Linked DNA regions of Homo sapiens. Each later gene encodes a partner of the first gene's protein in a complex. Each region holds a gene or a part of one and is shown in the gene's direction. Other genes may lie near its edges.

The links. The genes of interacting proteins can lie anywhere in the genome.
Region 2: the proteins of NUS1 (region 1) and DHDDS are in contact, whole or in part, in a crystal structure (PDB 7PAX), measured with the Homo sapiens proteins. Residues at the interface, in NP_612468.1 of Homo sapiens: His137, Gln138, Pro193, Glu194, Lys197, Ala198, Ile200, Val201, Ala204, Gln205, Phe207, Cys208, Gln209, Val211, Ala212, Arg217, Pro218, Thr219, Leu221, Asp222, Val223, Leu226, Asp237, Pro246, Val247, Asp248, Ser249, Thr250, Leu251, Gly252; in NP_995583.1 of Homo sapiens: Arg37, Arg38, Glu81, Asn82, Lys84, Arg85, Arg159, His160, Ile162, Ser163, Val166, Arg167, Met169, Ala170, Trp171, Val173, Glu174, Pro180, Ser181, Ile183, Ser184, Glu185, Leu188, His199, Glu209, Val210, Arg211, Leu212, Ser213, Asp214.

What each region holds. Positions count from the first base shown.
Region 1 is NC_000006.12:117,678,387-117,685,659, forward strand, and holds part of NUS1 (dehydrodolichyl diphosphate synthase complex subunit NUS1), read left to right. Parts: intron 1-7,273. UniProt on the Homo sapiens protein: With DHDDS, forms the dehydrodolichyl diphosphate synthase (DDS) complex, an essential component of the dolichol monophosphate (Dol-P) biosynthetic machinery.
Region 2 is NC_000001.11:26,427,913-26,435,479, forward strand, and holds the start of DHDDS (dehydrodolichyl diphosphate synthase complex subunit DHDDS), read left to right. Parts: upstream 1-4,408; 5' UTR 4,409-4,464; exon of another isoform or gene 4,465-4,606; intron 4,607-4,978; 5' UTR 4,979-5,033; coding exon 5,034-5,096; intron 5,097-7,567. UniProt on the Homo sapiens protein: With NUS1, forms the dehydrodolichyl diphosphate synthase (DDS) complex, an essential component of the dolichol monophosphate (Dol-P) biosynthetic machinery.

The sequences.
Region 1 (7,273 bases):
CATGGGAATGCAGCAGTGTACTCATGGAACTTAGATTTCAGTGGGAGTCTGACAAATAATATACGTGGGTAAATATGTGGTAATGTAAGTGCAATGAGGAAAAGTAAAGCAGAGAAGGGAAGATAGGAATGTTGAAAGTCAGTGGTGTAGGAAGGGGTACAGTTTTAAATAGGGAGGCCAAGGAGAGGCTCTTTGAATATAGACTTGAAAATATAGGCCATGTGGATATGTAAGAATCACTCAGAGGGAGTATAGACATGTAAGCTTTATTTAGTGTTTCTTTTTCAGTGGTTTTTTTTTTTTTTTTTTTTTGAGACGGAGTCTCGCTCTGTCACCCAGGCTGGAGTGCAGTGGTGTAATCTAGGCTCACTGCAACCTCCGTCTCCCAGATTCAAGTTCTCCTGTCTCAGCCTCCCCAAGTAGCTGGGACTACAGGTGATGCGCGCCACCCCGCCCTGCTAATTTTTGTATTTTCAGTAGAGACAGGGTTTTGCCATATTGGCCAGGCTGGTCTCAAACTCCTGACCTCAGGTGATCTGCCTGCCTCAGCCTCCCAAAGTGCTGGGATTACAGGTGTGAGCCACTGCGCCCGGCCATATTCAGTGTTTCTAAATAAATGTCTATTTAAGCTTATTTCTAGATAGATATTTAACTATGAAAAATCCTATTGACATACTCGTAAATGCCACTGGGATACAAGAAGTACAAGAAATGGTGTCTCTTAAAGAGTTTCCACTCAAGTAAGGATGTCCATTAAAAATTAACACAAGCTAATATAGAAATGCTAAGTGAATGGCAGATACTTTAAGGAGCGAAAAATGGAAAATTTCCCGGGTTACCTCCATATTTGTCTGGTAAGGAAGGGAGCAACACCTGAGCTGGACCTAGTCAAAAAGATAGAATTGGGATTGGCGTGAACAGTGTTCTCTGTGTGTGTGAATGGGGATTTCCCTAATGGCAGCATTCTCATTAGACTAGGTTCAGTAATAGCATTGAGTAGAGTGTTGGGAGCAGTGAATTTATGTAATGAACAGTTGGGAAATGAGGTAGGATGAAGGCTTGGACAGCTATTCTGGTTACCTACTGCTTTGTAGAAATCTACCCAAAGCATAGTGTTTTAAAACAACAATTTATATATTGACTTAGTTCAGTTGGGCAGTTTTTCCTTTGGGTCACTCATAGCTTTCATTCAGATAGAGTCTGGGACCCAAAGGTTTCTCCTTATGTCTGGTGCCTGGTTTTTGATGGCTGAAATAGATGGGGCAGGTTGGTCATCTGGCTTCACATGGTCTGGAGGTTGACTTCAGGGTAACCAGTTAACTAACTTCCCCCAGAACAAATGTTTCCAGAGACTTGGCCAAAGGCTGAAGCTGAAAGATGTCTTAGGACCTAACCTAGGAAATCATGCAGTGTTATTTTTGCTATGTTCTCTTGGTCAGAGAAGTCTCACATCTGTTCTGCATCAAGAAAGTGGAGAAATGGACTTCACCTCTCAATGAGAAAATGGCTTGTGTAGAAAGGTTGGGTGAGGATTTGAAGGGAGATGGACGGGCAGCCACTTTGAAGACAAGCTTACCACCTTACATTTTATTCTGTCCTACACCCCTTTGCTCTCAAATTTGTACTTAAATTCGTTCTAATTATGGTTGGATCTAGATAACAACATTTAATCCTTAGACTAAAAGATCTATTATATTGACCTTAATTTGACTGCCAGCAAACTGATCTTTTTGTTTTTCACTACCTGCAATATTTCTTGATTATAATAGAGTCTGCAAGTAATTCTTTCATCTTTCAAAAATTCAGGTTGTTCTCTCAGGACAGTGATCAGGAATTTTTTGAGTTCAGAATTCTAGCGAGATTTGGCTGTTCTGTCTATATGATTATAATTTAAGAAATGACCATAACTGGGATGGTACAAGAACCAGGGGTTGGGGTAAATGGATTTTATTGTTCTAGCCTTAGCAGTGTTGTTTGCCTGTGTCTCACATGCAGGTACACTTGGCTCCAAGTTATCTGGATATGTATTGTTATCTTAAGTGATGGAACTTGTTCTTATTTCCTGGCTTTATTGTGCCTTGCTGGGAACCTTGCTGTTGATTGGTATTTTTCAAAACCTGTCTGTGGACCATCTGTGAATTAGTCATTGGGGATGCTTATAAAAAATGCAGATTCAACACACTTAGTAATCAAACTTAATGAGGGAACTGGGACCTGGGCGTCTCTGTTTTTATCAAGCTACCTGTATGATACTTCTGCACACTGAAGTTTAACCCTAACACAGATCAAAGGATACTCTGCTACTTGCCTTACATTAGATTATTTATATTTCATGTTCCTTTTCATGATTGAGGATAATTTGGGGTAAGCCTTAGGATTATTTGCTGTAAATTGGAATGATCCAGAATAAGGCATTGCCTTCTGTGTGAGAATTCAACAGTAAGACAACAAATTTTTTTTGTGTGCTGCTCTTTCTAGTGCTATTTCCTTAGTTTATTTAAATCGAAGCTAGGTTGCTTTTGAAATGGTTTTTGGGTACAGGTTTCTCACAGTAACATTTTAAAAGTCTGCCCAGTGTATCCTATCTTTTCAACCTGTTTCTCAATGCTTTGCATACCTTTTGCTATGTCTGTATTTAGGTATTTAATGTTCCAGTTTCCTGGAACTCCCTCTTCTCCTTTTTCTGGCAAATGGCTGTATGCCTACCAAGAGGCTATTGTTCATCTTTTCCGAGTCAATCCTAAATATCACCTTGTATATTTTTGCCTTTCTTGACTATTCACTCCGTTCCCTATCTTACTATATCTCTGAATCTCCTCAGAACTTCAAACATCTCTAAAGGTACTTCTGTTCTCTGCTTTGTGTAGTCATATTTGTATGTATATGTGCATAAACTTTCTTACTAGATTATAAGCTCCACAGATGCTATCCATCCTTCTCATTTTTGCTTTTCTTACAGAGTGTATCTTGGTGTTATGCATGTAATGAATAGTTAATATGTGTTCCTTGAATTCAAAGAAGGGCCGCATTTCCTGTAGATAAGAATAATGAACTGAGTTGCACTCTCTGCTTCCCAACACAATACCCAGAAGCCTTAAAGTAATGGAGGAAAATGAACATAGTTTACCCTAGTTTACTTAGTTGGCACAGTGACACAGATGCTATTGAGAAGTATGATTTTCTTAAGTTTATTCTCCTTATGTTGAAATACAGAGGTGCCGGAAATGTTGAAAGTCTAAATATAAATGTGATTACATTTGACATACTGAATAGTACAACCTAGTGTTTATCTTCCCTCATGTGGAAACTCATGTAAGGGAGCATTCTATTCTTAATCTCTACCTTTGTGTAGTTGACTTTTTGTACAGTTTCACATTTATCTTAACATCCTGAAATGTCCTCTTCACCTTTTTCTGGCAAAGGGCTAGCTACCTGTCAAAAGACTGTTGATTCTTTTCTTTTTTGACATGGAGTCTGGCTCTGTCGCCCAGGCTGGAGTGCAGTGGTGCGATCTCGGCTCACTGCGACCTCTGCCTCCGGGGTTCAAGCTATTCTCCTGCCTCAGCCTCCTGAGTAACTGGGATTACAGGCATATGCCACCATGCCCACCTAATTTTTTGTATTTTTAGTAGAGATGGGGTTTCACCATGTTGGCCAGGCTGGTCTTGAACTCCTGGCCTCAAGATCCACCTGCCTCAGCCTCCCAAAGTGCTGGGATTACAGGTGTGAGCCACCGTGCCCAGCTTGTTGATTCTTGTAAGTTCATCCTAACTATCATCTCTGAAGTAGCCTCTCTCGACTGTTCCATCCCCAGTCTTACTCTGTCTTTGAAAAATTCTATCCTGCTTTTGTTAACTTTTTAAATGACTTTATTCTCTATGTACCCTTTTGTTTAACTATAGTACTGGATCTGTGTATTAAAGTAAACCTTTGCTGAGTGTGGTGGCTCATGCCTGTAATCCCAGCAGTTTAGGAGGCTGACATGGGAGGATTGCTTGAGCCCAGGAGTTTAAGACCAGCCTGGGGAATATAGTGAGACCCGCATCTCTGAAAAATAAAAATAGAAAATGAGCTAGACATGGTGTGTGCCTGTAGTCCCAACTACTCAGGAGGCTGAGGTGGGAGGATTACTTGAGTCCTGGAGGTTGGGGCTACAGTGAACCATGGTTGCACCACTGTACTCTAGCCGGGGTGAGACCCTGCCTCAATCAATCAATCAATAAATCAAACCTGTATCTTAAGCGTAATAATTATCCTTTGTTGAACTTTTAGTCTGTACTGGATACTATAGAAAAGTGCCTTAAGTCATTAGCAGTTTTACAGATAAACTGAGATTTAAAAAGCCAGGTTCCAAATCTAGTAAGGAGCAGATCTAGAATTTGAACCAGATTTTTATTCTAGAGCTTTTGTGCTTAACCGTTACATTATTTTGATTTCCACTGGTAAAAGAATGTGACGACAGTAGTCACTTTTAGTACTGTTTCTGATTCTTTTGGGTCATCTTCAAGCTTTGGTAAACAGGCACTTATCTACAGGTTATAGAAATTATTTGTAAAAGATATTTAAAGACTAATAGAGATTTCTTCATCCCACTAGTGTACATGTTCATCCTTTGAGTTATAGGACACATTTTTTAAAAAACCAGCTAAAAATTTAATGTTATGGTGCTCCAGCTTTGTGTTGAGCTGTTAGTTTGTCAGGTGAGCAGATTCTGTAAATATATTCTCATTTTAAAAATGTCCAACAAGATGCCGAAAAAACCCACATGGATTGTTCATTTTACATATCTCTTGTGCTGACAAGCTAGGACTTAAATCTAGCCCTCATTTTGTTATATACTTTGTCACCATTACACATACCTGTTCTCTTACTACAGCACTGCAGTATAATTTTCTACAGTATAATTGTTGTTCTGTGAGGTGTCCTGAAGGGCTCTCTCCTGAAATAAAATAGCTTAATGGCCTATGTATTTTGTTATGATTTATTTTCTTATGACTACTTCAGTCATGTAAAATTTTAATGGTAGATTTTTTTCATTTTAAATAATTGCTCCATAAATATATGTTTTCTTCTCTGAAGATTGCTCTCTAGTCGTTTTATAATTGAGTTGTTAGAGGTAACTTAGGTGACTAGTTTAAAAAGAAAAAGAGGTAGGCCAATTTTTAGAACAGGCATTTATTTATAAATAGAGATTACTTTAATTCCATAACCAGTGAAGTGCTTAATAATGAGGAGAGATTGTTTCAATGCTTATCTCATTTTTTTCTCTTGTTTGTTCTTGTAAGTACTTGCTATTATTTCTTAAAAAGTCTGTTTCTGTAGAAGGGAATAAATAATCACAGTAAAAATTCCAGTTTCAGATTTAAAAGAGATAGTAAATGTATTTTAAAAGTCTCATTTTATAGACTTGATTATACATTTCACATACCTTTTAAAATAATCAGTATTTGAGGAATGCAGATAAGATTTGCTGATGGAATACTTGTCTAATTAAACTCCTTGTGACTTGGTTCCCTTAATTTAAAAAAAGTATGCATGTCATGACTTTATTATTCAGTTAATGTGTAAGACTGAATACAGTATGTAACCTAGTAGGTAGATTAGGCAAATTAACTTCTACTCTACTCTGTTTTCTTCTAATCCATATGTGTGGCTTCTCCTCTGTTGTACTTCCAAATGTTGTGGTGTCCTAGAGTTTGGAGCTGTATGTATGCCTTTGTCTTTCTGTTACTCACTTTGTTGCAACTACTCAACTCTGCTAGTGTAGTCAAAAATGGCCATAAGCAAATGTGGCTGTTTTCCATAGCAGTAGTTTGCTGACCCCTGTCCTGCAGATAATCTCCCCAATCCCATGGATTTAAATGTCACGTGTGTGCTGACACACAGGTTTGGGCTGGAAATACAGTCCTGATATCTCCCATAATTCCAGACTTCTATATCTAACTCCTTGTCTAAAATAATTTATTAGGTCAATCCTATGCCTTGTATGTCTAAAACAGTACTTTTTGAGACCTAATCCTTGTTTTAGTCTCCATTGCAGCCATCCAAGTTTAAATTACCATTGTTCTTTCACCTGGATTACTGTAGTAGCCTCCTAATTGATCTCCATTTTTCTATCCTGGTCCCTGTATAATCCATTCTTCACCTACCAGCGAGGTGATCTTTTTTTGATGGCATCATTTGGACTGAATAAAACCCTCCAACAGCTTCTCGTTGTAGTTGGAATGCTTTCGAAATTCATTACCAAGGCCCACAGGCCCCTTCATGTTACGGCCACTGCTGACATTTCTGGTGTCCATATGATACTCTACTTTCCTCGAATGTGATGAGAAACCTGACTGCTGAGAGAATATGCAATAGAGTGATTCCTATAATAGCAATCACCTGGGGAAGTATTGATTTTTATATTTTAAGAACTGAAAAAAACAGCAAAAAACTTTTTGTTTAATACAGTTGTTAAAATAATCATGAGACTAGCACCAAGGAAGGATACATATTACACAAGTAAAAAAAGCAGGATACAAATTGCATAATCATATACACTAGGATTACATATGCATGTGGACAAAGACTAGAAAATATTGAGAAGTCGAAATAGTTGTGTTACAATGGTAAGGTTAGGGACATTCCAGTAGTTATGGGGAAGGTTAGGGAACATTCCCTTATTATCTAAACATTGAACATCTTATTTTTTAAGACTAGAATTTAAAACAAATGTTTCTTAGAATCTAAAATGAAGTCTTCATTTGGCCCCCAAAATGCATACCTGCTGTTTATTAAGAAATAACAAAAGCATGGTAGTCTTTCTGAGGTATAACTTTGCTAGAATAATATTCTTCTTTCACGGAAGTTGAAGATTTTGTGGTTTTACTTTTATTTTTTTCAACTTTTATTGTAGATTCAAAGGATATGTGTGCAGTTTCCTTACTTTGGAAATTGAAGATTTTCTCGTGTGTGTTTTGTCATAATGGCTATTTGATATATCTTTTCTTTCTTTCTTTTTTTTTTTAGAGACAGGGTCTTACTTTGTTGCCCAGGCTGGAGTGCAGTGGTGCGATCATAGTTAACTGCAGCCTTGAACTCCTGGGCAGCCTCCTGAGTAGGTTGTACTACAGGCACAAGCCACCATGCCTGGCTAATTCTTTTATAAAGACAGGGTCTTGCTACATTGCTCAGGCTGGTGTCAAATTCCTGACCTCAAGTGATCCTCCCATCTCAGCCTCCCAAAGTGTTTGGGATTATAGGCATGAGCCACCATGCCCAGCCCATTTAA
Region 2 (7,567 bases), on another chromosome or scaffold:
AAAAAGGGGGTTTCGTTTACACGCTGTGAGATCACCGCAAACCTACCTTACTGTGTTGAAACGGGACAAATGCAATAGAACGCATTGGGTGGTGTGTGTCTGATCCTGGGTTCTTGTCTCCCCTAAATGCTGCCCCCCAAGTTACTGTATTTGTCTGGGCTTTGTAGGACTTCACTACGTTGATTGCTAGGTGGCCTAGTTTGTGTAAATATAATGTATTGGTCTTTCTCCGTGTTCTTTGGGGGTTTTGTTTACAAACTTCTTTTTGTATTGAGAGAAAAATAGCCAAAGCATCTTTGACAGAAGGTTCTGCACCAGGCAAAAAGATCTGAAACATTAGTTTGGGGGGCCCTCTTCTTAAAGTGGGGATCTTGAACCATCCTTTCTTTTGTATTCCCCTTCCCCTATTACCTATTAGACCAGATCTTCTGTCCTAAAAACTTGTCTTCTACCCTGCCCTCTTTTCTGTTCACCCCCAAAAGAAAACTTACACACCCACACACATACACATTTCATGCTTGGAGTGTCTCCACAACTCTTAAATGATGTATGCAAAAATACTGAAGCTAGGAAAACCCTCCATCCCTTGTTCCCAACCTCCTAAGTCAAGACCATTACCATTTCTTTCTTTCTTTTTTTTTTTTTTTTAAAATGGAGTCTCACTGTGTCACCCAGGCTGGAGTGCAGTGGCATGATCGGCTCACTGCAGCCTCTGCCTCTTGGGTTCAAGTGATTCTCCTGCCTCAGCCTCCTGAGTAGCTGGGATTTCAGGCACCCGCCACACTCAGCTAATTTTTGTATTTTTAGTAGAGACGGGGTTTCACCATGTTGTCCAGGCTGGTCTGGAACTCCTGACCTCAGGTGATCTGCCCACCTTGGCTTCCCAAAGTGCTGGGATTACAGGCATGAGCCACCATGCTGGGCCAACCATTTCTTGGTGTATTCATGCCAAACACTTAAGACACTGCTGTAGCCCAGGCGCGGTGGCTCACACCTGTAATCCCAGCACTTTGGAAGGCTGAGGCGGGCGGATCACAAGGTCACGAGTTCAAAACTATCCTGGCCAACACAGTGAAACCCCGTCTCTACTAAAATACAAAAAAATTAGCCGGGTGTGGTGGTGCATGCCTTTAGTCCTAGCTATTCAGGAGGCTGAGGCAGGGGAATCGCTTGAACCCGAGAGGCAGAGGTTGCAGTGAGCTGAGATCGCACCACTGCACTCCAGCCTGGTTACAGAGCAAGACTCTGTCTCAAACAAAACAAAACAAAACAAAAACACACTACTGTATTTTGGATGGATCAAACCTCCTTAATTTTAATTTCTAATCCTAAAGTAAAGAGATGCAATTGGGGGCCTTCCATGTAGAAAGTGGGGTCAGGAGGCCAAGAAAGGGAATATGAATGTATATCCAAGTCACTCAGGAACTTTTATGCAGGTGCTAGAAACTTTATGTCAAAGTGGCCACAAGATTGTTTAATAGGAGACGAACGAATGTAACTCCATGTTTACTGCTAAAAACCAAAGCTTTGTGTAAAATCTTGAATTTATGGGGCGGGAGGGTAGGAAAGCCTGTACCTGTCTGTTTTTTTCCTGATCCTTTTCCCTCATTCCTGAACTGCAGGAGACTGAGCCCCTTTGGGCTTTGGTGACCCCATCACTGGGGTGTGTTTATTTGATGGTTGATTTTGCTGTACTGGGTACTTCCTTTCCCATTTTCTAATCATTTTTTAACACAAGCTGACTCTTCCCTTCCCTTCTCCTTTCCCTGGGAAAATACAATGAATAAATAAAGACTTATTGGTACGCAAACTGTCATCCCCTTGTCAGATGTTTTTGCCCTTCCGATAACTCCCACTTTCTTGGATTGGGACTCAGAAGTTTTTCTGTTCAGCCAGTTTGTTAGGAATGAATCTTGAAAGTTCAGTCCTCTTAGCACCTCATTACAGTGGATTTTTGTTTCTAGTTAAGGCCTCTTGTCCTTTCCTTGGAAGCTTCCACATTCAAGAGGGGATTAGGGGCTTGGCATGCATAAGAATGGGGTTGCCTGTGCCACTGGCTGGGATGAAAGGATGGGGCCATGGCTTGGGGCATGAGACCCTAATAATACTTTGTCCCCTACTCCTCAAAGCCTTTTACAAATCTTAATTAATTAACCGCTTGCAGCACCCCAAGGAGAGAAATGTGTTGTGGAACTGGGGAAATTGAGGCCAGAGGAGATTCACTGACTAGCTATAAATGCAACATTTTCTTTGAGCCAAAGTTTGCTAGCTTTTTAATGAACATCGAGTTTTTTTATATACATCACAAGTCATCAAGCAAGAACACTGAATTTTAAACATCTATTCCCACTAAGGGAAGGAGGATTTTAAAAAGGAAAAAAAAAAAACTTGATTGGAGGCAAACCAAGTATATTAACACCGTGCAAGGAAACAGGGAAACTGGTTTAAATCCTCAAGCCTGACATTATAAGAGTAAGGGTAAGAAGTTTCATAATCTACTCCAGGGACTTTGTGGCTCCTTAATTGTACCAAAAGTCAAAGCTGACAGTAGAACCTCATGAAGCAGCAAACTACTAGTGGACTTCATTAAATTGTCTTGCTGCAAAATGAAGTAACTTGGACTGAAATTTACTCCCCAGGCTGCAAAGCAGGAAGGATGGAAAAGCTCAACACTATTCATTTCTACTCATCTCTAGGGCTTTCTTTCATCATGTTGCTGTGTTAAAATAACCCCTTTCATTAGAAAGAGTGGAAGACATAATCAATTAGAAAGTGCCAATAAAACATCTCTTCCTTGCCTCATTTCTTTAATAATATTGTAAAATGAAATGCGACAAAAAGGTTCTTTGACAATTGTGAATTTTTATTCCACTCAAAACATAATACTACATAAAGTTGTATTATGCTTTGCAAGAAATACTGGTTGTGGCCGGGCGCGGTGGCTCACGCCTGTAATTCCAGCACTTTGGAAGGTCTAGGCAGGCAGATAACGAGGTCAAGAGATCAAAACCATCCTGGCCAAAATGGTGAAACCCTGTCTCTACTAAAAATACAAAAATTAGCCAGGCTTGGTGGCACGCGCCTGTAGTCCCAGCTACTCAGGAGGATGAAGCAGGAGAAACGCTTGAACCCGGGAGGCGGAGGCTGCAGTGAGCCGAGATCGCGCCACTGCACTCCAGCCTGGGCGACATAGCCAGACTCCGTCTCTAAATAAATAAATAAATAAATAAATAAATAAAAATAATACTGGTTGTATAAGAATCTGTAAAGAATTTTTTCCTCCTCTTTCAATTTTGAGAAAATTGAACTACAAATTTGTTTTGTGAGCCTAGAATTCTTGCAACCCTTTTTTTCGTAAAGGTTCAGTAGAGCTAATGCCCTTAACTTTTCTACCAGGGTTAATTTCTGTTATTTTCATTTATGTACTGCCAAAGCGAGCACCTTTCTGTTATTTTAGAAGTCATGCTTTTTTTTTTTTTCTTTTTTCAGACAGAGTTTCGCTCCTGTTGCCCAGGCTGGAGTGCAGTGGCCTGATCTTGGCTCACCGCAACCTCCGCCTCCCGGGTTCAAGCGATTCTCTTGCCTCACCCTCCCGAGTAACTGGGATAACAGGCGCCCGCCACCACGCCCGGCTCATTTTCTGTATTTTTAGTACAGACGGGGTTTCACGATGTTGGTCAGGCTGGTCTCAAACTCCTGACCTCAGGTGATCCGTTCGCCTCGGCCTCCCAAAGTGCTGGGATTACAGGCGTGAGCCACCGCGCCTGGCCTAGAAGTCATTCTTATGGCAGAAATCTTTCTGGCCTTACCCCTTCTCTTGAGTTCGTTGGGATAGGTCTTGGGAATCCACAAATCCTAAAATATGCGTGCCTTAAGTCGGCACAAAATAGATTAATATTCTGCGCGTCTGTAAGATTGGCTGCGGCTAGAAACTCCTTCCCAGACGATTAAATCCACTAAATAAAATACGAAACGGTAACGAGATAATTTTTAAGAGTATGCACCAGTGCTCTAATGAAGCCCGGTTCTGCGGCATTCCAAGGTAAGGACGCTGCCTTACCCAGTCTCTCAGCAGTCCTAAGCTGCCTTCGACGGCCGAGAAGCGCCTCGATTCTTGCCCCTGGCTCATTTCCCTGGCGCGTTTTCCAGACGCCTCCGCTCCCAACGCTGGGCTCAACCCTGTCTTCCCCAGCTGGTCTCCCAGCACGTGGCCTGGAGCCCAGCCTCCCGCCCCGCTCGGTCACGTGAGCCTGGCTCTCACCCGCGCCGGCTTCCACACCCCGCGGGACTGAGAACCGCCCTCCCACTAGCTCGCAGGCGCAGGCGCAGGGCAGGGTCCCCTCAGTTTGGGTGACGGAAGGGGCGTGTCGCAGCGCCCAAAGATGACGTGTTCTGCCAGCGCCACGTCATGAGGAAGTGCCGGCCCACTGAAGCCGTGGGGACGCGCCCAGCGGAGCTAATCAGGTGCCACTGAACTGAAGGGGTGAACTAGAGGAGAAGAGGGTGACTGGGCGGGGAGCAGCTGCGGGAGAAGCAAAGGGACGACTGAGGGAATAATCAGGAGACCACTGAGGCGTGAAGTACTAGGCGTGCGATAACTGAAGGAGTTAGTAACTGGGAGCACAGAGTTGGAAACAGCTTAGGGGAAGATGGAGAAGGAAGAAACGGGGAATGATCAAGATGTGGGCACCATGATGTGGCAGGAAACCGACTTAGATGTTCAGAAGAAGTCAGTGCAGATACGGAGGAAATGGGAATGGGAAGAAGTCTGCAAAGCCAGGAGAACCGAGGAAAGGCTTTTGCCTCCAGAGGTCACATTGCGTTATAAAACTCTGGGTGGTAAAAGATTATAGGCTTAGACCAGTGTCTTTGGATTCTAATGCTGGCTGCTCTCCATAGTCCATCTGATTCCCCAGAAGTCAGTTATAGCTCTTCGCAAACCTTGGTGACTTCTTATTTTCTTTCTTGTTTATCCAAGATTACCTGGCTGGTGTTTGCTTGTTCTGGAGTGATCTTCTGACTGGAAAAGAACTATGTCATGGATCAAGGAAGGAGAGCTGTCACTTTGGGAGCGGTTCTGTGCCAACATCATAAAGGTGAGCAATGGCCCAGAGCACCGGTTGGCCTTCTGGTCAGTTGGATAATCTTATATAAAAACCTGTTATTAAAGTTGATGATGTTAAGTGCAATTCATGATGTTAAGTGGAATTTAGCAAGGAAACCAAAGAGTCTTAGAATGGTAACTTCCAGGTCTACATTTCTGGTAGACTTTTGTCCTAACTCTGATATTTTCTGGAAGCCCAGGCCTCTTAATGTCACTGGGCAGCCTAGACTGCTAAGTATTCTTTATAGAGAACTGAAATTTGTTTCCCTGGAACATTGATCCATTGTTCCATGTACTGTCTTCTTGATTTAAATAGGTTAATCTTTGATATATTCTTTGATCTGTCAGTAGAGCTGGGCCCGGTCACTCACGCCTGTAATCCCAGCAATTTGGGAGGCTGAGGTGGGCAGATTGTTTGAGCTCAGGAGTTGAGACCAGCCTGGGCAACATGGCAAAACCCCGATTCTCCAAAAAATTAAAAAAATAGCAGGGCTTGGTGGTGTGCACCTGTAGTCCCAGCTACTCGGAAGGCTGAAGTGGGAGAATTTCTTGAGCCCAGGTCAAAGCTGCAGTGAGTCATGATTGTGCCACCACACTCCAGCCTGGGTGACAGAACGGGACTGTCTCAAAAAAAAGAGTTCAGAACAAGACTCTGTCTCAAAAAAAAAAAAAAAAAAAGAGTTTGGGCTCTAGACGCAGACAAACATGGGTGAAATTCCTGTTCTTTTTTTTATTTTGAGATGGAGTCTCGCTCTGTCGCCCAGGCTGGAGTGCAATGGCGCAATCTTGGCTTACTGCAACCTTCATCTGCCAAGTTCAAGCAATTCTCTTGCCTTAGCCTCCCAAGTAGCTGGGGTTACAGGCATATGCTACCACACATGGCTAATTTTTATATTTTTAGTAGAGATGGGATTCTCATATTGGCCAGGCTGGTCTCGAACTCCTGACCTCAGGTGATCCACCTATCTCAGCCTCCCAAAGTGCTGGGATTATAGGACTGAGCCACTGCACCTGGCCTGAAAGTCCAGTTCTATCATTTAGTAATCATGTGACTTTAACAACTGTAGAATTATCATGAGAATTTATGAGACATTAATATAAAGCAGTTAGCATAATGTCTAGCAGTTCTTAATTATTATTAGGATTGTCTTTCAGACATTTGAAGACTATTATCTCCTATCTTCCCCAAATCTTCCCTCAGCTTTTTCTCTAGGAATCACAGCAATATTATATCTGCCTAAGACAGGTTTGAGATTGGGGCCAGTCAGCTTGGTTTTGTTTTTCAACCACAGGCTGTCAAGCAGCAGGTAGTAATGAATTTATGAGTCAGTAACCTTTATACAAGCCCCACACATGCTCACAAACAAATGCCAAGTGATCTCAAGCAGTCCAGGAAATGGGAAGTATCTCCTTGGGGAACCACTGCAGTGGTATGTTTGGAAGAACAAGCTGCATAACTTGAATGGATTTTGGGGGCTGGAAAGGCTGTATGTGAGACAGAAGTAGAAAAAGGAGAAGTGTTGATGAGGAAGCAGTCAGGGAAGAGCCCTCCCAGGTGAGGAAAAATAGGCTAAGGAGTCCATTTGTGTTATGGGAGACAACTCAAAGCTGCTCCAAGCCAAATAAGGGTTTTGTTTTTTGTGGTTTCTTTTTTGAGATGCAGTCTTACTCTGTTGCCCAGGCTAGAGTGCAGTGGTGCAGTCTTGGCTTACTGCAACCTCTGTCTCCTGGGTTCAAGCGATTCTCCCACCTCAGCCTCCCCAAGTAGCTGGGATTATAGGCACCGGCCACCATGCCTGGCTAATTTTTTTTTTTTTTTTTTTTAGTAGAGTTGGGGTTTCACCATGTTGGCCAGGCTGGTCTCGAACTCCTGGCCTCAAGTGATCTGCCCACCTCAGCCTCCTAAAGTACTGGGATTACAGGCTTGAGCCACCACGTCCGGCCCCAAGTAAGTTTTGTTTGGCTCAAAAAAAGTCTTTTTTGTTTGCTTTGAAAAACAATTTTTTTTTTTCAGACAGAGTCTCACTCTGTCGCCCAGGCTGGAGTGCAGTGGCACAATCTCAGCTCACTGTACCCTCTGCCTCCCCGGTTCAAACAATTCTCCTGCCTCAGCCTCCCGAGTAGCTGGGATTACAGGCGCTCGCCACCACGCCCGGCTAATTTTTCTTTATTTTTAGTAGAGACAGGGTTTCACCATTTTGGCCAGGCTGGTCTTAAACTCCTGACCTCGTGATCCACCCGCCTCGGCCTCCCAAAGTGCTGGGATTACAGGCATGAGCCACTGCGCCCGGCTGAAAAGCAAAATTTTAATAAAAATCCTGATGTTTGGTTTTCTTGCAAGATCACCAGATCCAGCAATGTTGTGCCCCAGTTCCTGTGTGTCAGCAGTTGGCTAGAGGTCAGGAATTAGTGCCTTTTTTTTTTTTTTTTTTTTTTTTTGAGACAGAGTCTTACTCTGTCACC